2 linked regions of the Homo sapiens genome follow. The protein of the gene in region 2 purifies or fractionates together with the protein of the main gene of each other region. This does not show direct contact. Each region holds a gene or a part of one and is shown on either strand. Other genes may lie near its edges.

Region 1 (11,863 bases), on a different chromosome or scaffold from region 2:
TAGTACTACATGCCATATGCCAAGTTGGCTGTACATTCGAAAGAGATACAGAAGGTAGGTCTCTTCCTTTCCTTTCTCTCACTATCTCTAGCAAGATGAAAACACTCCGCATATGTATTGTATTTGTTGGGATTTGGAGGAGATTAGAGGGTGGACAGGAAGGAAAATATTTAGAACTTAAATTCTTCTTGGTTTTGGATCTGGATTACACAATATTTCCTCTTCCTGAATAACGTATACTAAGAGCACTGAGCATTTACCAATATGCTTCATTGGCCATTAAATTTGCACACAGGAAAAAAAGCAACTAAGCCACAAGATGAGCATTCAGCCATAGCATCCACAATTGAGAACTAGGTGGGCAAAAATCAAAGGAAAAAATGAAGAGAAACAAATGAATGTTGACCCATTAATGAGGCTAACAATATTTACTGAGCATCTGCAATATGCGAAGTATCACCTTCAAGGAGCCACAAGTGGTATAGAGATCAAAGATACCTAAACTAAGCCCTCAACAACCTTACATCTAAGTAGACCAAACAGCACAAGGACCTAAATAACTCTAAAACAAGGCAGAAAGGGATTGGAATCAGAGATACCGACCAAACGGTATGAAGATTCAAAGGAAGGAATGCTTGCCGCTCAGCAAGAGAGATAAGGTGAGCTTCAAGTCTAATGTGGTCCTCACGACTACAGGAGGAGTTACAGGAGGTTGGCTGGGCTCAACATCTTTTCAGCAGCTGCTGCCACATATAGAAAAATGAACTGGATCACTCTTGGTATGTAGATATAGAAGTTAACCAGGAAATGTGTTGGATCCTGTTTGCATCTTCTTTAAACTCTTAAAATAGACCAATTGAACCACGATCTATGTGAAATCAAGTTCAGTTGAAGTATTACTAAACAATTAACTTCACTTAGTATTCCCATCATGGATAGCACTGGACCAATTGGTGACCTCAAAGATTAGACAGTTTTTTAAATTAATTAATAAATTAATTAATATTTATTTATTTATTTTTGAGACAGGGTCTCACTCTGTCACCCAGGCTGGAGTGCAGTGGCACGATCTTGGCTCACTGCAACCCCTGCCTCCTGGGTTCAAGCAATTATTGTGCCTCAGCCTCCCAAGTAGTTGGGATTACAGGTGTGTACCACCATGCCCAGCTCATTTTTTTGTATTTTTAGCAGGGACAGGGTTTCACCATGTTGGGCCAGACTGGTCTTGAACTGCTGACCTCAGGTGATCCGCCTGCCTCGGCCTCCCAAAGTACTGAGATTACAGGCGTGAGCCACCGTGCCCAGCCTAGGCAGTTATTAAGTAGCCACTGCCCCTATAATGCCACTGGCTACCAAGTGAAGATAGAGTCTGTGCCCTTTAGGGAAAAGAGCCCAAGGAAAGGATAACAGAACATATCCAGCTACACACTAGAATCACATGATAGCACTTCAGGGAAAAGACCAATATGAAACAGAACTGGGAATTGTCCCACAAGGACAGCAAATATTAAACACCCCAGAATATTCTAGTGATGTCAAAAATGACCTTACAAAATGATCCAGGTCATGATGGACAGAAAGGGAGCTGGCTGAGCGCTAGCTGTGGCCCTAGCTATTTGACTTTTCTTCCCCAGCTCATCTTTATCCCAGGAGATCCTACTCTATGGCATGAGAATTCTCCCTCTCCACTTGGGCTGCAGACAAACCTTTGTGAGCTAGATTTTTCTGGGCTCTGTGAGTCATAATGTCTCTGATGTCCTCTGATTAATTTTGGTTGTTATCTATGGCCACAGAACTTGGATGAGGAAAGACTTCTAAACAGCAAACAAACAAAACTTGGGGGGCCACAGTAAGTCACTTACAGAAAGTGAATTTACAAGCCAGCTAAATGATTTCTCAAAGTAAAGGCCCTACCTTTCTTTATATAATGTTTGCAGACCTTTATGTTGTAAAGATAAAAGCAGTTTTGAAGATTAAGATATAGGATGTAAATAGAATGTACATATAGGATTTGTGTACATATGGGAAAACTGGTTATTTCACTTTGAGGGAATAGCTTTAATTTAATTTGAAATTGTATTAAGTGGTGGGAATGTAAAATGGTATAGCCACTGTAGAAAACGGTTTGACAGTTTCTCAAAAAGTTAAACAGAGAATTATCGTATGACCCAGGATTTCCACTCCTCGGTATATACCCAAGGGGACTGAAAACACGTTCACACAAAAACATGTAACAAGTGTTCATAGCAGCATTATTCATAATAGCCAGAAAGCAGGAACAACACAAATGACCATCGGCTGACGAAAAGATAAAGAAAATGTGATATATCCCTACAATGGGATACTATTCAGCCATAAGAAGGAATACGGTATTGATAAATGCTACCGCCTCGATGAGCCTTAAAAACATTATACTAAGTAAAAGAAGCTAGACACAAAAATCACAGGTTACATGATTCCAATCAGATGAAATGTCTGGAATAGGAAAACCCACAAACACCTAAAGGAGATAAGTCGTTGCCAGCAGCTGAGGAATGTGAGTCATCAGGGATGTTTTCTAACGGGCACAAGGTTTCTTTCTGGGCTGATAAAAATGCTCTGGAATTAGATAGTGGGATGGTTGCACAACTTCGTGGTTCTACTAAAATGCACAGGCTCGTAAATGTTAAAGTGGTGAATGTTATGGTGTACTACATTACATCTCCATTTTAAAATGTATGAAGTACCTTTACTTACCAAGCACTGCGTTATAGTCTGAAGAAACCACGGAAACAACTGTCCTGCCACTAAGGCACTTACTACCTGGTAGGGAGACACGCAAACAAACAGATACAAATAGCCAAGCATAGAGGTGCTTGGATGGGCATTTGTGTGGTACACAGCAGAGCCCAAAAGAGGAGAGGTCTGGAGAGACTCCACAGGAAAGTTTCACCCGAGCTGAATCTCCAACTGAACTTAAAAAAAAAAATTAATAATCCTTTGGTCTTCTCATGTAATATCAAACAGGGAGAGAGGAGAGCTAGGGTCTTAATCTAACACTACCCTCTGATTATACCATAGACCTTAGGAAAGTCATTTACTTCTCTGGACCTCAGTCTCTTACTTCCTACAAAAGTAAGGTGTTGGCTGGGCACGGTGGCTCACACCTATAACCCCAGTGCTTTGGGAGGCCGAGGCGGGCAGGTCATTTGAGGTCAGGAGTTCAAGACCAGCTTTGGCCAACATGGTGAAACCCCATCTCTACTAAAAATACAAAAATATTAGCCAGGCATGGTGGTGCATGCCTGTAATCCTAGCCACCCAGAAGGCGGAGGCACAGAGAATCGCTGGAACCCGGGAGGCAGAGGCTGCAGTGAGCCAAGATCACACCAGTGTGCTCCAGCCTGGGTGACAGAGCAAGACTCTGTCAAAATAAATAAATAAATAAATAAATAAATAAATAAATAAATAAATAAATAAATAAAGGTGTTGATATCAAAGGTTTATTTCTACCTTTGAGAAATATCTAGAATCCTCGTGCATATCATATCATAGTCTATCTAAAATCCTGACATACTTAAATCCTGATTCTGCAAAGGGTTTCTCTAGTGTATTCTGGGTGTGCTGCTTTCTGAGATTGAGAAAGGAATCTTCCTGCTGGCTACCTCTACACGCCCTAACAAACAGCACACAGACTATGCTTCCTTCCTGTTGGCAGCCTTCATCTTCCACCCCAGGGACAGAATCACCCATCTGCTGACCACGTATTCACCTTATATTACCTTCCTACTGGTAGCCTTCGTCTTGTAGTCCATAGACAAATCAAGCCTGTGCTGGCCACCTGTCCACCCCAATGAGTAACACACAATCCATATCCCCCCTCTTTTTTTTCTTTTTTTTTTTGAGACAAAGTCTCACTTTGTTGTCCAGGCTGGAGTGCAGTAGTGCTATCTCGGCTCACTGCAACCTCTGCCTCCCAGGTTCAAGCAATTTCCCAGCCTCAGCCTCCTGAGTAGCTGGGACTACAGGCGCCCACCACCATGCCAGGCTAATTTTTGTATTTTTTAGTAGAGACGGGGTTTCACTATGTTGGCCAGGCTGGTCTCGACCTCCTGACCTCGTGATTCACCCATCTCGGCCTCCCAAAGTGCTGGGATTACAGGCGTGAGCCACTGTGCCCAGCCTCCACACAATCCATATTCCCTTTCTGTTAGCAGCTTTGTCTTGTACCCATGGCCGTCACAGGTCCATGGCTGATTTGCCAAGTTAACAGGAGTCCATCCATAATAATCAGCACTGGGTCATGCCCCAGAATCATTAGGATCAAAGGATGGGAAATCAGGGATTTCTTTGAAAGTAAGCCACTCTTAGTAAGATTCAAATTTGTTTAAAGCCTGGATTAAAACAATGCCAAACAATAAACTTAAACAGACTGCTTTACCCTCTGACTTTAAATAAGATTAGTTTTTAAGTACATTTAATTAAAACGAATGGGGCATTGCAGCATATTTACTCACTCAAGGAAGTAATTTACATGGGAACATTTCATGTGAAAATAGTTACTTGCCCACATTCCTAGGACTAAAAATAAAATAAACAAAACAAAAAGCAACCATCAATAAAACAAAAAAAAAGCTGGACCAAGTAGATTCAGCCAGTGGAACTAGGTGAAAAGTGTCTTACTTCTACCTTTTTCTTTCCACTCTCAGATCATTGGGCTATTTTCCTTTTACTCGTATTTTGGGTAAATCATATCTATTTTACAGCTCAAATCGCAAATCCTACTTTCTCTTTCCCTTCAGTGATATTTCTTTCCTTTGAAAACTAATTGTATTTGTTATCTAGACAATTATTCAACTTCTCACACATTTGGGTGAGAAGAAGAGGGGGAAGTATTTATCGAGCTCCAACTAAATGCCAGCATTTCTAAAATACGTATTTTCTCTTAGGGCTCATAATACCGCTGCAATGTGGGTAGTATTATCCACATTTTATATACGAGAAAACTAAGGCTCGGACATATTAAGTCACTTGCCCAGGTCACAGAACTGCAAAGAGCAGAGCTGGACTTTGAACTTGGCAGCGAGGTCTGACCCCATAACCCTGAATTTGCAACCAGTTTGCTTTGCAGCTTCTCCTGGCCTCAGCTACTTGAAGGCAGGGGGACAATTTAATGCCGAATTGTATTCTTCGAACATAGTGATTTGATTTCTGCGAACATTCACTCATTCATTTACTCATCACTCACAGCTTTTTTTCCATGCCAGGTACTATAATGGAATAAAAATAAGAGCACAGCTCTCTCCTTGCCCTCAGAGAGGACCTCAGTGTATGAAAAGGGAGAAGCTTATAAACAGGCAACTTGAACAAAGATGTGCAGAGGATGCTATGAAAACACAGAGGAGGACGAGGCAAGAGGTAAGATCAGGCCGGCCCAGAGGAGGAAAAGCTTAACCTGCAGCCTGCTGGGCCTCAGAGAAACTGGGGAGACTGTGCCAGGCAGCAGAATTGCACATACAAAGAGAGGCCCAACGTGAAAGCATCCTTCAAACATCTGTGACAAAGAAGACTGATGCGGGTGTTTGGGGGTTAAGAGTGGGACGTGATAGAAAGGCTTAACCGTCAAGAGCTTGAAACGTATGATTCTGGGAAATATGATTAAACTAATGGAATGAGAAGCCTAGGGAATTGAAAAGGGGTTATTGGTAACTATAAATAAAAAAAAAATGCAAACTATCTAATGCTTTCCCAAATAGCTGAAACCTCAAATCCCTCTCCATTCATGCCCTTGCAAGATGTAGAAGTAACTGGCCACCACCTATCATCTCCATCCTCAGGAGAACAAAAGTTAAAGTAAGACTGCTGTTTGGGGGGAACCATATCCCATCAACAAACCGGATGAGGCCCTGGGGACCCAGCATGCTGGAGGAACAGGAGGCCACAACACAGTGTGTCTCCTTGCCAGCAGCAGATGCCGGTCACTACTTTGCCTCTCAAAGTAGCCTAGTCAAAGCCATCAGTCAGGAGAGCGGGTCTGAGGGCAGGAACCACATGCTGGTCCTTCTTACCAACTTTCCCAGGATGTATTTTTTATGGCTAGCTCAAACACTTCTCTCAAATGTAATAGAGGGCCTTCACAGCTGAGTTTCAGGGTTTGGAGAGAATTAAAACCTTTTCCCTGACACAGACTCTCAATGTTACCAGGAAGATGCTATAGAAAAGCTCCACAGCATCTTGAAGAATATGCTGTCTTTTTGACAACAAAGCCATTTGTGGCCTATGGCCTACTATACCCAAGACGCTTCCCCTAGCCCTCTGACATACAGGTCTGGGGTTGCGGATTAGTGAATGGGGTAAGAAGGGCACACTAAAAGAAAAATATTATAGTGTTATATGTTCTACTTAGTTTGAAAACAGGTTGGTATTGCTTTAAGAAACAATAATGTACCCAAGAGGTTCTCTCACTTACGTGATACCCTGAGTATCTGGGTCTTGGGAAACCATTCCGAGTGAAGACAACACCTGGTGTGCTGCATGTAACAGAAAGGTCTCAGCAGGTGCCTGAATCAGACATGAACCACCTTTCTCTCTTCTGGGATATGAACTGCTTTTCCAGGGAGGGGACTGCCAAGTCTACTTTGGTCCCTGCTCTCCAGTCCAGAACATTCTGCTTTGGGATTTGGACTCAGCTGACAACATAATCACTGAATCCTCTCCAGATATCCTTGGGGCTTTTGATAATAGTGCCAGTCTCTTGTTTGTTTGTCAAGAAGGTAATCGCCCTAAATATGTTCTTTCGTTTGTATGAGACCCAAAAGCTCCAAAGGACAGAAAGAAACACAGGTTCAAAAACTTCACTCTAATTTCCTACAGGAGAGTAAGGGAACATTCCATACAGACAGCTTGTATTTACGAGCTAGAGGAAGGAAATCTTTGCTAATTTTCCTGGCAACAGCAATATACTTTATGGGAGTCTTCAAATTTGAGTTGCTGAAGTACGTAATTAGCAATATTATTTACAAACTTTAGGTGTGCCAGTGTTCAGCGTACCTCATGAATGACCCACTCTTATGCTCCTCAGGCTGAGGCAGAGTGACATCATGGTTGAGACCACGAACCTGGGTGTCAGGCAGACCTAAGCCCAAATCTAGTACTTATGTGACCTTTGGCAGGTCTCTTAACTGCATATGCCCCAGTTTCCTTCTCTGTAAAATGAGATAAAAGTAATTCCTGCTTTGTTGAGTCATTGAGAATATCAAACATGGAAAAATCATGAAACACTTGGCACAGGCGAGGTATGGTGGCTTGCGCCTGTAATCTCAACACTTTGGGAAGCCAAAGCAGGAGGACTGTTGGAGGTCAGGAGTTTTAAACCAGCCTGGGCAACAAAGTGAGACCCTGTCTCTAAAAAAAAAATCAAAGAATTAGCCAGGCCTGGTAGCATGCGCCTGTGGTTCCAGCTACATGGGAGGCTGAGGCAAGAAGATCACTTGAGCTCAAGAGGTGAAGGCTGAAGTGAGCCCTGTTCTCACCACTGCACTCCAGCCTCAGAGACAGAGGGAGGCCCTGTCTCAGAAACAAAACCAAACAAAAAAAGACACTTATCACAATGTTTGAGATATAGTAGGCCCTCAATGAATGACAGCCGTTCTTCAAGAACAGTACTACATCTACAGTCAGAAGCTGCAGAGGCTGTTTCGTACGTTTACTGATCTATTTCATTGATATATGCTCACTGATATATTTTTGCAGAAGCTATTTTGTATATTCACAGATCTATTTCACTGATATATGCCCACTGATATATTTTTGCGGAAGCTATTTTGTATGTTCACTGATATATTTGTTTTGCCCACTTTTCCCATCTTCTTGCTAACTCATTGCTGTTGTTAAGTGGGGGAAAACAATTTCTTCCCTTGCAACATCCAAGGGTTGTTTTGAGCTTTACAAAGGACACATATGCATGGGGACACTTGGAAAATCATGGAGTCCAGCACAACTCAAAGCAGGGATTGAGCACCAGACAATAACAGGAAGCTGCAGCATCGTGAGATCTTTCTGGCAGCTGGAGGAGGCCTTTGCCAAATATTCCCAAGCACCCTGCCAGGAGCTGCTCCTGAACACTCTGGGGCTTCGTAGCACAGGAACATGCATGGCTGCAGGAGGGCGCACTTCCTCCAAGCACCTGTCCTAAACAGGATGCTCTGAACACACAGTGGCTTTCTGGGAATCCCACGTCCTGTGCAGCATCTATAGTTCTGGGCCTCTATTGTTTCACAGCATGGAAGGCAAACAATAGAAATTATTTTTAACAATAATAAACAATTTTTTCTTATTTTATTATTTTAATTCAGCCTCCATAGAGACTGTCAAAAATGACTAATGCTGACTATATTGCAATTCTATTATTATTACTGAAATTAACATTTAGTGGATGCTTTTGTGTGCCACTATACCAAACACTTTGATATGCACGTTCTCATTCTTTAAATTTATTTTTATCTTTTTTTACAATTTTTAAAATTGAGATAGGGTCTTGCAAGTTTGCCCAGGCTGGTCTTGAACTCCTAGGCCCAAGTGATCCTCCTGCCTCAGCCTCTCAAGTAGCTGGTACTATAGGCCCACACCACCATGCCCAGCCAGGTTCTCATTTAGTTCTCATAATCAATACTGCCCTTAGACACACGCAAGCAGGGCCCCTGCCCTAACCCCATTCCTTCCTCAAAAATGTCTAAGTGCGCTCTGGTACCTGGGATCGCTGGGGCCAGCAGTGCTGTCTGGATGGGGAATCTGAGCCTCCTCTTCACAGATCTCTCTAGTGATCCTCTGCATCTCTCCCATACTGTGCAAGGGGTTGGCCAGATGCCCCAAGGAGCCCCAGGAGTCATGCCAATGGGTTTCTTGGGGCCCTGGAGCTGGCTCCATTCTAGGGGACAAGCCTAGCAAGCAATCACTTCCTCAGGCTGGTGTGGCATTTCTTTCCCAAGACTGAAACAGATTGAGCTGTTGACACACTGCTTTGGGTGACTCAAATTGTTTATATAGACAGGAGCCCTACAAAAAAAATCTGCCCAGGGCCCCATCTACTCTAGGGATAGGCCTGCTCAAAGCAATCCTATAAGGTATGCATTCCCTGCCTACCTTAGGGACAGAGAAACGCACTTGGAATCACTAACTTCCCAAAGTAACACATTTAGTGAGTAGAAGAGCTGGGAGTCAAATTCTGGAATGTCCAACCTCAAAGCCACACTTAACTAATCTCCCAGATTTCCTTATCTGCCTCCACTAAGATATGGATATCCCAATGATGATTACCTTTCCTGTATCCAGAACTCTCTCGGATACTGTTAATTCTCTTGTTCCCAAGTGAGGGAATCTGCTGATAAGTCATTATCCAGCATGCTTTCATTAAACTACAGCTTACCTGGCTTCCCCTTGCCTTCCTGCCTTCTCCTCCCAACAGATCTTATCTCTTTCAAGAGCAACAGTGGCTCATTCCAAAAATATCTGATTTGAGTCTGTTTGAGTAGAAACATTCCATAGAAGCATCGAAGTCATTCAGAATAAAGTGTTAGCTCCAGCAGAAATCTACATGTTTCATTTTTATTCCTATTTGTGGAATAAAACATTTTTTCCTCAATAAAGGGATTCTAGGTATCCCCTAGTATGTGGATCTGATTTTTGAGGGAGGTGTCATTTGCTACAATAGGCATACTCAGCTGGTTCTGAACAAAGTCTTCTTAGCAGAGCTTGTAAGGGGACTGGGCAGAAGGCATGGCTTCTTCATCCCCGCTCCCTGCTCCCCTAAAAAGGAATGTGCCTGGAATCATGAAGAGAAGACTGTTAAGAGTAAGAGACAAGGAGCTGTTACCATCAGCAGCTGTCGAAGTCGGTATCCTGTCTTGCCTGAGCACTGATCTGCTTGTCAGCCCTCTCTGTCCCAGCCAAAGCTCTGTATAGGCACAGTGAGATACCGCTTCACACCCACTAGGATGGCTAGAATAAAAAAGTCAGATAAGGCCGGGCGCGGTGGCTCATGCCTATAATCCCACCACTTTGGGAGGTGGAGGCAGGCAGGTCACCTGAGGTCAGGAGTTCCAGACCAGCCTGGCCAACATGGTGAAACCCCATCTCTACTAAAAATACAAAATTAGCCAGGTGTGGTGGCACATGCCGGTAATCCAAACTACTTGGGAGGCTGAGGCAGGAGAATCATTTGAACTCAGGAGGCAGAGGTTGCAGTGAGCCGAGATCACGCCATTACACTCTAGCCTGGGCAACAAAGCAAAACTCCGTCTCAAAAAAAAAAAAAAAAAAAAAAAGGCAGATAATAGCAAGTGTTAGCAAGGATGTGGAGAAACTGGGACCTTAATATGCTGCTGGTGGGAATGTAAAATGGAGTAACTGCTTTGTGAAATAATCTAGAAGTCCTTCAGAAGGTTAGACATAGTTATTATATGACCCAGAAATTCCACACCTAGGTATACACCCAAGAGCCCTGAACATATCATATGTCCACATAAAAACCTGTATATGATGATCCTTTTGATGTGTTCACACACGCGTGTGTGAGGTGAGCCACCCTCGAACCTTGTTATGACATTGGCACATTACCCATCTGACACGAAAAAAGAAAAAAAAACCTTGTATATGGATATGCATAGAGGCATTATTCATAAAATCCAAAAGTTGGAAACATCCCAAATGTCCATCAGCTGGTGTAAGCAGAAACAAATTGTGGAATATCTATACGGTGAAATAGTATTTGGCCATAACAAGGAATAAAGTACTGACACGTGCTACAACATGGGTAAACCCTGAAAACATGCTAAGTGAAAGAAGCCATAAACGAAAGACCACAGATTATAAATTCCATTCACATGAAATATCCAGAATAGGGAAATCTAAGAGGCAGAAAGTAGATTTTGATTTCTTAAGGCTGAGAGATGGGGATGAAGAGGTTGGGGTGGGGAGGCGATAGCTAAAGGGTACAGGGTTTCTTTTTGAGGCAATGAAAATATATATGTAACATATCAGTTGCATACTAAAACTCGCTGAACTATAGACTTTAAATGGATGAATTTTACAGCATATGAATTATAACTCAATAAAGCTGTTGAAAGCTGATTGCAACAAAACAGAACATCTTAACTCCAGTACTTCAGCTAAACTGAATCCAATTCAACTCTGGCTGTCCAAGAATGACGAGGAATGCGTTATGCTTCCTGGCTTATTTGACTTAACTTCATACATTCGTAGGGACCATGGTTAATTGCCTTCTGCTTCCTGTACCAATTCTAGGTCTGACTTTGACAAGGTGTGAGCAGTTGGGTAGGTATCATCTTCATTAACAAAGGCACCATGATAACTTCAAAGTCTGAAAACTCCCAAGTGCAATAACTCTATCCTCAGAGTGGGCCTTCTCCACCTCTTTCCCAGGCAGAGGGATGAGTGACACGTTTTAATGAGCTTCACTGAAAAGAAGCCTCAACAAGTTCTCTCAATATTAAAACACTTTCTTTTTATTTTATTTCTTTTTTAGAACATTTCACAAGACGAGCCCTCCCTACACAGTGACACAATTTGGACCTCAACTTTACTTATCTTTTGCTAGCCTCCATCTCCCCCCTTGAATATTTCCTTTCCATTCATCCTTTGTCATATGAAATAATAACATCTACAGATAGAGATCTTTCTTTTCCATCATACTTCCTATTACTGACAATTATTCATACCAAGTTTGGAAAGAGATACATTTGTTACTGAAGATCATAAAATCCTGGACAAAAATATCCTTGGGATTTAGCTCCGTAGCTACACTTATGTTACATTCTCCATCTCTCCCACCCTCACCCCCATTAATTATATATTAAGGATAGTGTTT
Region 2 (11,863 bases):
ACAAGATTCCTCACTGCAGAAAGCTCTGAGCAATGACCTGGGCAGAGAGGTAGCCTTCGAGCTAATCTTGGCCACAGTTCTGTCATTCTGGCTTAAATTCTGCCCTTTTGCATTGCACAGAAGCATAAATCTCTAGGCCTCTCTTAGACGATTATTCTGGGAATGGAGAGGTTACAAAAACATTTGGTCAAAGTGAAGTTTGATCAACGAGCTGAATAATGACCCTCACTCTGCAGTCCACAGCTGCAGAATGATGGAGTGGCCGCAGACCAACCGTCTGCGCTTCCTCCCCTAGAAAAACACAACCTCCAGCCCAGAGTCAGATAACTCCTTTCTCTTCCAGCATTTCCTCTCTGTAGCCCTGTGGAAAGCATCATCAGTTGGACCGATGCCGTCTAGCTTAAAAGGAGCTGGACATAATTTCACAGCTAAGAAAAGCCTCATCTCTTTAACAGATCGTTAAAACGTATTGCAGAGACATCGGAATTTTGAACAGCCAGCTGGAGAAAATTGAAAGTGGGTCTATTGATTCCCACCAAAATGTTGACTTGATTCTTCCCAGGAAAGGTATGTGCTTGGGCACTGATTTTTGTGCCCTAGCTTTTTGCCTAATGCCTCCCTCTTCAGGTCAATAGAAGGTAGGATTGCTGAGAATCGCAGGCATTTCAACAGTCATTCATTCAAATTCTCAGTGAACTCCCTCAGTGCCAAGAATTATGAACAGAGTTATGGGTTGAATTGTGTCTTGCAAAAAAGATAGGTTGAAGTCCTCACCTTGGGTACCTGTGAATGTGACCTTACTTGGAAATAAGGTCTTTATAGATGTCATTAAGTTAAGATGAGGTCATACTGCACTGGGGTGGGCCCTAATGCAATGACTTGTGTCTCTATAAAAGGCAGAACATGGTTGGGTGCAATGGCTCACGCCTGTAATCATGAGGGCCAATCATGAGGTCAGGAGATCAAGACCAGCCTGGCTAACACGGTGAAACCCCATCTGTACCAAAAATACAAAAAATTAGTGAAGTGTGGTGGCACGTGCCTGTAGTCCCAGCTACTCAGGAGGCTGAGGCAGAAGAATCGCTTGAACCCAGGAGGCGGAGGTTGCAGTGAGCTGAGATCGCACCACTGCACTCCAGTCTGGGCGACAGAGCAAGACACTTTTTCAAAAAAAAAAAAAAAAAAAAGGCAGAACATTTGGACACATAGCCCCATAAGGAGAGGCAGTGTGAAGACTGAGGCAGAGGCTGGAGGGATGCATCTACAAGCTGAGGAACACCAGGGGTTGCCGGCAACCGCTAGAAGCCAGGAAGGGGCCAGGGAGGACCCTCCTCTAGAGTCTTCAGAGAGAGCATGGCCGGGCTGACACCTTGGTTTCAGACTTTTAACCTCCAGAACTGTGAGAGAGTAAATTTCTGTTTTTTTATTTGTTTGTCTTGTTTTTTTTTTTTTTTTTTTTGTTTTTGTTTGAGACAGAGTCTCACTCTGTCATGCAGGCTGGAGTGCAGTGGTGCAATCTGGGCTCACTGCAACCTCCCCCTCCTGAGTTCAAGCGATTCTCCTGCCTCAGCCTCAGAGTAGCTGGGATTACAGGCACATGCCACCACGCCTGGCTAATTTTTGTATTTTTGGTAGAGATGGGGTTTCACCATGTTGGCCAGGCTGGTCTCAAACTCCTGACCTCAGGTGATCTGCCCACCTTGACCTCCCAAAGTGCTGGAATTACAGGTGTAGGTCACCACACCCAGCCAATTTCTGTTGTTTAAAGCAATCTTTTTTGTAGGACTTGGTTACATCAGCCCCAGGAAACTGATACAGACACGAAGATAAAAACAACACAGTCCCTGCCTAGCATCTAGCAGTAAGTGTGGCGCTAGGGCACGGGATCCAACGGTGTTAGAGGAGGGGCTCCCCTGGTAAGCTGCTTGCAGGCTGAGCAACCTCACCCCGGCCGTCGCCGACTCTCCCTTTCTTGAGTCAGGAAGTGATGCTGGTTACATATGTGTTGATACCTTCTCCAGGGTTTCCAGAGTCTGTGGGTTGATTTTCCTGATGTAATTGGTCTCTGAGGTCGCGTAGAAGTCTTCTCCGCACTTCATGATGTTGATCAGGCAGTTGTCGGTGAAATCGGGGATGGTGTGAGACAAGTAGGAGAAAGCTCTGGGGAGAAAAGCAAATCAACAGAGTCAGTGGCTATGTCCACCCAGCCAGAGAAGTCTATCCTTGATGGCTTTAGTTTTCCTACCACTTAAAAATGCTTTACTTCGGCCGGGTGCCTGTAATCCCAGCACTGTGGGAGGCCGAGGCAGGTGGATCACGAGGTCAGGAGATTGAGACCATCCTGGCCAACACGGTGAAACCCCGTCTGTACTAAAAAATACAAAAAATCAGCCGGGCGTGGTGGCAGGCGCCTGTAGTCCCAGCTACTCGGGAGGCTGAGGCAGGAGAATGGCGTGAACCCGGGAGGCGGAGCTTGCAGTGAACCGAGATGGCGCCACTACACTCCAGCCTGGGCGAAAGAGCGAGACTCTGTCTCAAAGAAAAAAAAAAAATGCTTTACTTCAACTAAGGAAGAAAAAGCAACTGGGTCCCAATGGGTCACCTGAGGAATCCTAAGAACTCAGACACCCCAAAGACACCTCCACGTTGAGTTAGCTAAGAAATGAGTCGGCCGGAATGCCATGGTCACCAGCTGATCCTCCTGGGCTCCCCAAAACCCAAAGGTCTCTAACATCAGAGCCAGCAAGACATACTGTTCCAAAGTATGTCAAGAAGCTCTACGGAAATCGTATATGAACCCGTAACGGCTCCCAAAGCCTAACAACGTAGCTGATATCTGCTTTGCCAGGAATGTGAGTCCACACTGGTTATCTCGAATTTATCCAGGAAATTAGTTTTTAATTTAAAAAGGAAAACAAACTAATTATGAGTTAAGAACACATAGCTCATTTGATCAGAAGGTATACTCAAAGCAAGAAGAAAGAAAAACCAGAGGGGTTTATGGGTGATGAAATTGGCAAATCCTGTATCGGTGTATTGGGGAGTGCTCCTCCTACTGGCAAACACTGGAACAAAAAGGAGGCTTGGTTCCAGGACCTCCAGGTCGTGGTTTCAAATTCGTGATCCTGCTATCTCCCCTACCAGGTAAGTATGGTGGTTTTAAATTCCTTTGCTCTTTCCTCCTCCTTTCTCACTGGCTCCTACTCCACACCTCCTATTTGCAAATGTGAATTCAGTGCTTGCTCTGAGCTAGCCCTAGAGCTGGATACTGGAATGGGAGAGATGACTTCAGTTCTCAAAAAAGCAGAAGCAATCTTCCATCTCTGGGCCAGTCCACCCTTCAACTCTTTCATAACTCTTCTACATCTAGAGAGTTTCAGAAAGAAGATACTGATGGCAGGCCTGATTCCCTGGCCAAGAATTTAACTGTCAGATATGTAACACATTCATATGGATACTAATCCAGATGATTTAAAATGTATACAGTGGCCAGGCGCAGTGGCTCATGCCTGTAATCCTAGCACTTTGGGATGCCAAGGTGGGTGGATCACCTAAGATCAGGAGTTCAAGACCAGCCTGATCAACATGGTGAAACCCCGTCTCTACTGAAAATATAAAAATTAGCCGGGCGTGGTGGTGGGTGCCTGTAATCCCAGCTACTTGGGAGGCTGAGGCAGGAGAATCACTTGAACCTGGGGGGCAGAGGTTGCGGTGAACTGAGATTGCGCCATTGCACTCCAGCTTGGACAAGAAGAGTGAAACTCCATCTTAAATAAATAAATAAATGAATAAAATGAAATGAAATGAAATAAAATATATACAGCAAAAAATCTCTCCCTCTCCTCAACATCCATCTGCCCCTGTGCATCCTTTCCTAGTTTCTTTATGCATGTACAAGCAAAATTTAATTTAGATTTCTTACTGCTTTTTCACACAAAGTACAGCTTATAACATGCTCTTTCTACACCTTCCTTTTTTTTTTTTTTTCCACTTAGTCTATCTTGGAAAAGCTTCTGTAGAGTGCAAAGAGAACATCCTCATTCCTTTTTACTTCTACATGGCATTTTCTCGTACAGTTTTACTGTTACGGATTTAACCAGTCCTCTTTTAATGAACATTTGGGTTGTTTTCAGCTACTTGTTATAACAAATGATGCAGCCATAAATGACAAATACCTGGTGCATGTGTCATTTTCTATGCAAGTAAGCAGATCTCTAGGCTGAAGGGAATACGCATTTATAATTTTGACAGATGATTCCAAATCGCTTTCCCACCAGCCATGTGGGAGGGCTTCTAATAATTTGTCAAATGCTCTTAGTCTCTCTGGCAATCAGTGATCAAGAACTGTGTAGCACCTCTGGTTAAAGGGCAGTCATGTGGAGTTTTCATCTACCCTAAAGAGAATTGTCAGAGGAGCAAATGCTGGTTATTTCAGCCATCAAGGATAGCAAAAAGCATGAAATTTGCTCAGATTTAAAATAGGCAGTTACTTGGAAAATATGTTTTTGCAGGGGTCCGGATAGGCCATTGTTCCAAACTCAGACACCACAATCCTGTTTGCCTCAATATTGGTGTTGTAGGTATCGCTTCTCAGGTATTTGCTCCTGTAATAGACTTCACCTGCAAGAGAAGAACCAGCATAATCTCAGGCTGACGCCTTCACAGGGCTTTAAAATCAATGTCAGTCCTTGTATGGGTTTTACTGGGAGAAGAAGGTGGTTATTTCACTAGGACAAGCTCCTTTAGTACACAGGGCCGATACAATTCGCATTTTAAATATAATTTTATTTATTATTATTATTTTTTTGAGTTTTGCTCTTGTTGCCCAGGCTGGAATATAATGGTGCGATCTCGGCTCACTGCAACCTCCGCCTCCTGGGTTCAAGTGATTCTCCTGACTCAGCCTCCTGAGTGGCTAGGATTATAGGCATGCGCCACCACGACCAGCAAATTTTTGTATTTTTAGTAGAGATGGGGTTTCACCACGTTGGCCAGGCTAGTCTTGAACTCCTGACCTCAGGTGATCCACCCGCCTCAGCCTCCCAAAGTGCTGAAATTACAAGCGTGAGCCACCATGCCCGGCCTGGAATATAATTTTAGACACACATTTTCTCACTCCTGACTCACAACAGTATGGCTGGATAAGTATGTGTTACGGTTTGAATGTTTTGTTCCTTGCAAATCTCATGTTGAAGCCTGTGATGTTGCAGGTGGGCCTAGGAGGAGGTGTCTGGGTGATGGGGGTGGGTCCCTCATGAATGGCTTAGTGTTGTTCTGGTGATGAGTGAGTTCTCACTCTATTAGTTCATGCAACATCTGGTTGTTTAAAAGATCCCTCCCTCCTCTCTCTCTCTCTCTTTCACCATGTGACATGCCTGCTCCCCCTTTGCCTTCTGCCATGAGCCAAAGCTTTTTGAGGCCCTCGCCAGAAACCAAACAGATGCTGGTGGCTTGCTTCCTGTACAGCCTGCAGAACCGTGAGCCAAATAAACCTCTTTTCTTTATAAATTACCCGGTCTTGGGTATTCCTTTATAGCAATGCAAAATGTGATAATGCAAAATATGTCAATGCAAAATATGTCTGTTCTTAGCTCCATTTTCCATAGGAAGGAACTCAGGCTCAGAAACATTCTTTCACCTTGCCCAGGGTCACCCATCTGAGAGTGCTGACCAGAATCAGTCATCCCTTCCACCCTGTTTGTGTCCCTCCAGGGAAGGAGCAGAGCTGGAGGACTAATCTAGAAGGCTGCATATGTGGGGTGGTTTTCCCCAGGGCCCCGTTCAGTCCTGGGAGCGCTGCCTCCAGAAGCCCAGTTGATCACTTCAGTCTCCCTGGAGTAACGTTTGATATTGAACACAACCAGGAGGTGACCTGATGCCCAATCCTGCATAGCAATAGAGGGTCAGACCTGTGTTCAATGTCTAATTCATCCAAATTCTGCAGAGAGTCTAACTCATGGCATAAATCTCTTGACCAGTCCATTGAGACCAACCTCAAAATATACCAGATGGTTCTAGACCCGTGTTAGTTTTCTACGGCTGCTGTAACGACTTACCCCTCACTTAGTGGCTTCACACAACATACAGTCATTATCTCAGAGTTTGGAAGAAAGTCTGAAATGGGGATTACAGAGCTAAAATCAAGGTGTCCACAGGGCTAGTTCCTTTTGGAGGCTCCAGGGGAGGTCTGTTCCTTGATTTTTCTAGCTTTGAGAAGCTGCTGCCTTCCCTGGTCATGGCTGCGTCACTGTGACCCCTGTCTCCTGTCCCGGTATCACATCTCCTCTGAGGCTGACGCTCCTGCTTCTCTCTTGAGATTACACTGGGCCCATCCCTAATGTCAGATCACCTCCCCCATCTCAAGATCCTTCATCTAATCACATCTACAAAGTCTCTCTCTTTTTTTTTTTTTTTTTGAGATGGAGTCTCACTCTGTCACCCAGGCTGGAGTGCAATGGTGGAATCTTGGCTCACTGCAAGCTCAGCCTCTCTGGTTCAAAAGATTCTCCTGCCTCAGCCTCCCCGAGTAGCTGGTATTACAGGCATGTGCCACCATGCCCAGCTAATTTTTAAAATATTTTTAGTAGAGACAGGGTTTTGCCATGTTGGTCAGACTGGTCTCGAACTCCTGACCACAGGAGACCCACCTGCCTCGGCCTCCCAAAGTGCTGGGATTACAGGCGTTTGCCTAGCCTGCGAAGTTTCTTTTGCTATGTAAAATAACACATCTAGGCCAGGTGCGGTGGCTCACGCCTGTAATCCCAGCACTTTGGGAGGCCAAAGTGGGTGGATCACCTGAGGTCAGGAGTTTGAGACCAGCCTGGCCAACATGGTGAAACCCCATCTCTACTAAAAATGCAAAAATTAGCTGGGTGTGGTGGCACACCCTTGTAATCCCAGCTACTCAGGAGGCTGAGGAGACAGAATTGCCTGAACCCAAGAGGCAGAGGCTGCAGTGAGCCGAGATCGCGCCACTGCCCTATAGCCTGGACGACAGAGCGAGACCCCGTCTCAAAAAACAAATAAACAAAAAAACGCAACAACAACAAAAAACCCACATCCATGGATTCCTCCTGGGGCAGGGGTGAGAGGAGGTCCTTCCCAGCTGGGAATAAGTCAGGAGAAGCTTCAGGGAGGAGGTGGTGCATGAAACAGCTCTTAAAGGATGAGTAGAATTTGACTGCAATATGCTGGGGAGAGAGGGCAGAGCTGTCCTGTTCACCCGCTAAGAGGTCTGTAAGCAAAGGCCTGGAGTTGGGAAAATGCAGAACCCTTCTTGCAGGCGTTGAGTTCGGCTGGGCTGGAACATTAGAGAGGGATTTGGAGGACAGGAGTGAAATGAAATTGGGAAATGGGTTGAGGGGTCCTACTAGGTTTGCAGGCCTGATAACTTTTTTTTTTTCTTTTTTTGAGATGGAGTCACTCTGTCGCCCAGGCTGGAGTCCAGTGGTACGATCTTGGCTCACTGTAACCTCCACGTCTCAGGTTCGAACGATTCTCCTGCCTCAGCTTCCCAAATAGCTGGGACTACAGGCATGTGCCACCATGTCCGACTAATTTTTGTATTTTTAGTAGAGACGAGGTTTTACTCTGTTGGCCGGGCTGGTCTCAAACTCCTAAGCTCGGGTGAACTGCCTGCCTCGGCCTCCCAAAGTGCTGGGATTACAGGCATGAACCACCGCACCAGCCCTGAGAACTTTATTTCCTGGGCAGTTTGAAACCTCGGGGAGGGGCCTGAAAGAGGCAGTGTTTTATTTTATTTTGCTGTTAATTCGCAAATGACATTAAGATTTTTTCCTTTTACAGAACGCATTTCATTTTCGTGGTATAGTATGTGCTTCCAGTGTTGCTACAATTACAACACACGGAAAAGCCAAGCCTGGGACACAGTGACATTGCATTCCAATAAGCAAAAAGTTGACCTCAGAAACGCCCATCATATGTTGACTGCCACAGGATGGGCTTAGAGGAGAAAACATGTTTCCAAGAAATTCTCGCCCAGTGCCTTTTGATATCTTAGGAAAAGGAAACTAGTACTAACAGCCAGCATCGATTGAGCACCAGCATGCTAAACACTGTGCTGGGCACTTGATGTGTGTTATCTGGTTTCATACTCACAACACTGGAAGCAAGTAGAATACTCCAACCAGAAATGCATTCGCTGGAAAAAAAAAAAAATCGGCCATGCGCAGTGCCTCATGCCTGTAATCCTAGCAATTTGGGAGGTAGAGGCAGGTGGATCATTTGAGGTCAGGAGTTCAAGACCAGCCTGGCCAACATGGGGAAACTCCATCTCTACTAAAAATACAAAAAAAATTAGCCGGGGTACTGGGCACCTGTGGTCCCAGCTACTCGGGAGGTTCAATTGCTTGAACCTGGGAGGCGGAGCTTGCAGTGAGCCGAAATCGTGCCACTGAAGTCCAGCCTGGGCAACAGAGCGAGACTCAATGTCAAAGATAAATAAATAAATAAATAAAAAGAAAGAAAGAAAGGCTGGGCATGGTGGCTCACTCCTATAATCCCAGCACTTTGGGAGGCTGAGGCAGGCGGATCACAAGGTCAGGAGTTTGAGACCAGCCTGGCCTATACGGTGAAACCCTGTCTCTACTAAAAATACAAAAATTAGCTGGGTGTGGTGGGAGGCACCTGTAGTCCCAGCTACCAGCTACTTGGGAGGCTGAGGCAGGAGAATCGCTCGAACCCAGGAGGCAGAGGTTGCAGTGAGCTGAGATCACGCCACTGCACTCCAGCCTGGGCAACAGAGCGAGACTCCATCTCAAAAAAATAAAAAATAAAAAAAAATAACATAATGTCATTTGTTAATTAATAGCAAAATAAAGCAAGATCTAAACAGTGCTTAAAGGTTCCAACTTTTTTACCAAATGAAGTACAAAGGGCTTGGGTACTCACAGCCCTGCAGACTTATTTCCCAGCTAATAAAATTGAGGCACAGAGAGGTTAAGCAGCTTGTGTTAAGCCACACAGCTAGCGAGTGGTAATCTGGAGTCGAAGGCCAGCAATGGGCATCTAAAGCTGGCCCTCTTAACCAAGATCCTAACACAGCAAGAACAATCAGTTTGAGTGTTCTGTCTGCACCTTCCAATTAAAATCACTCCTACAGAGATGTGCAGCTTGATGACATCCAGCCTGCTGAGGTTTCACAAAGGGGAGCTACCCACGCAAACTACATCCTGATCAAGAAACAGGACCTGGGGCCAGGTGCAATGGCTCATGCCTGTAATCCCAGCAGTTTGAGAGGCCCAGAGGGGAGGATCGCTTGAGCCCAGGAGTTCAAGACTACTTGGGCAGCATGGCGAGACCCCATCTCTACAAATAATACAAAAATCAGATGGGTATGGTAGTCCCAGCTGTTCAGGAGGCTGAGGCGGGAGGATCACTTGAGCCTGGGAGGTCAAGGCTACAGTGAGCCAAGATCGCACTACTGCACTTCAGCCTGGGCAACAGAGCAAGACCCTGCCTCAAAAAGAGAAACAGGACCAGAGCAGCCCCCTGAACGCTAGCCTCATATATCCACCTTGTCACTAACCTCTTCCCCCTCCAGGGTAACCGCTATCTTGACTTTGAAGAGTTTCAACTTGTTTTGCCCTTGGGGTTGTGTTTCCATGTCCATTGCCAAAGGATTTGAATGTACATTCCAGTGGCAATGACTCCCACCTGTGCACTTGGATGGACATAATGACAATAATAGTAACACTAATTATAAGAAAATTGAGGGGAGGCGTGGTGGCTCAGGCTTGTTGTCCTGGCACATAAAAAGGTGAGGCTAGGTGTTCGAGATCAGCCTGGGCAATGTAGGAAGCCCTTATCTATTAAAAAAAAAAAAATGCTTGGTGTGGTGGCTTATGCCTGTAATCCCAGCACTTTGGGAGGCCAAGATGGGCGGATCGTCTGAGGTCAGGAGTTCGAGACCAGCCTGGTCAACATGGTGAAACCCTGTCTCTACTAAAAATACAAAAAAAAAAAAAAAAAAAAAAAAAAATTAGCCGGGCGTGGTGGCACGCACCCATAGTCCCAGCTACTCAGGAGGCTGAGGCAGGAGAATTGCTTGAACCCAGGAGGCAGAGGTTGCAGTGAGCTGAGACTGTGCCATTGAACTCCTGCCTGGGTGACAGAGGGAGACTCTATCTCAAAGAAAAAAATATACAATAAAATAAAATTGAGGGAGATCATGAAAGACCTGCTAGTTCCTCCTCCAGTCTTCAGGAGGTTATTTGTGTTCCTAAGAGACAATCATCTAGCCTTTATGCAAACATCTTTTCAGGGGTGGTTACTGTGTGAATAAGTGTCACTGAGATATTTCTTTCTCCTTTCTTTGTGAGACAGGGTCTTGCTGTCACCAGGCTAAGGGCAGTGGCGCAATTACAGCTCACTGCAGCCTCAATCTCCCAGGCTCGAGTGATCCTCCCACCTCAGTTTCCCAAGTAACTGGGACTATAGGTGCGTGCTACCATGCCTGGCTAATTTTTTATTTTTTGTAGAGATGGGATCTTGCTATATTGCCTAGGCTGGTCTTGAACTCCTGGACTCAAGCGATCCTCCCGCCTTGGCATCCTGAAGTGCTGGGATTACAAGTGTGAGGCACGGTGCCCAGCCTCACTGAGATATTTCTGTAGGGGGAGATTTATTCCTGGGCAGCAGAAAGAAATATGGAGGAACGGTTAGGAGCCTGAGCTTTGGGGCTGACCAGGCCCTGAGTTCATGCTTTCAACCATTATTTATTAACTGCCCTGATGGGCCAGGAGTGAAAATATAACAATGAGCAGAATGGCCAGGATTCCTGTTGCTAAGGAGGCTCAATCTCCACATGGATATGAATCCTGGCTTCATCATGTACCAACCATGCACTTGACCTTGGTAACAGTCAAGAATCTGTCCCCTCCACTATGACATGAGGATCGTGACACAGTCCTTGCAGAGTCACGTGACATTTGAGGCTTGCAAAGCACTGTGCACATAGTAGGTGCTCAAGAAAAGCTGCGTAGAGTATTGAGATGCAGTAGACAGAGTGATCAAGGCTTCGGCTCTAGGTTTCATCTCATCCAGGTTGGGTGACCTTGGGCAGGTCTCTTAATCTCATCGAGCCTCAGTCTCCTTGACTGGAAGCTGGGAATCACATAGTCCTCCCCTTCTAGGTGGGCAGTTTTATTATCTTTATTTTTTATATTTGAGACAACATCTTGCTCCGTCACCCAGGCTGGAGTGCAGTAGTGCGATCTCGGCTCACTGCAACTTCCACCTCCTGGGTTCAAGCAGTTCTCCTGCCTCAGCATCCTGAGTAGGTGGCATGACAGGTGCCTGCCACCATGCCTGGCTAATATTTGTATTTTTACTAGAGAGGGGGTTTCACCATGTTGGCCAGGATGGTCTTGAACTCCTGACCTCAAGTGGTGAGGTGGGCAGTTTTAAATGAGATGTGGTAATGTAAGGGGTCCTGCGCATTGACTCCCAGCATGCACTTCGTAAACAAAGGCTGTTGAAACTGCATTGTCCAAGAAAATCCGGGTGGCAGGCGGACTCATCTGTGGGTGAGCAAGGCCACACATACTCACTGGTCCTCAGCTACATGCTACATGGAGACAGAGGCCCACTTAAGGCCACCCTGATCTCCCCTTTGAGCCAGCCTGTCTTTCACTGGTTACTGTTGCTGGGAGTCACCACCCACAAGGCATTGGCTAAGGTGCTTGACCTGAAATGTTGAATTATGTTCACTTGAAATATTGGCTGGGTGCTGTGGCTCACGCCTATAATCCCAGCACTTTGGGAGGCCGAGGCAGGTGGATCACCTGAGGTCAGGAGTTCAAGACCAGCCTGACCAACATGGTGAAACCCCGTCTCTACTGAA

What was found.
Region 1: the proteins of BCO1 (region 2) and ABLIM1 purify together in Homo sapiens (affinity purification with mass spectrometry; 2 studies listed by BioGRID and IntAct, with this or other methods). This does not show direct contact.

Annotation. Positions count from the first base shown.
Region 1 is NC_000010.11:114,645,992-114,657,854, forward strand, and holds part of ABLIM1 (actin-binding LIM protein 1), read right to left. Parts: intron 10,604-11,863; exon of another isoform or gene 10,504-10,603; intron 1-10,503. UniProt on the Homo sapiens protein: May act as scaffold protein. May play a role in the development of the retina. Has been suggested to play a role in axon guidance.
Region 2 is NC_000016.10:81,252,433-81,264,295, reverse strand, and holds part of BCO1 (beta,beta-carotene 15,15'-dioxygenase), read right to left. Parts: intron 4,621-11,863; coding exon 4,491-4,620; intron 2,161-4,490; coding exon 2,013-2,160; intron 1-2,012. UniProt on the Homo sapiens protein: Symmetrically cleaves beta-carotene into two molecules of retinal using a dioxygenase mechanism.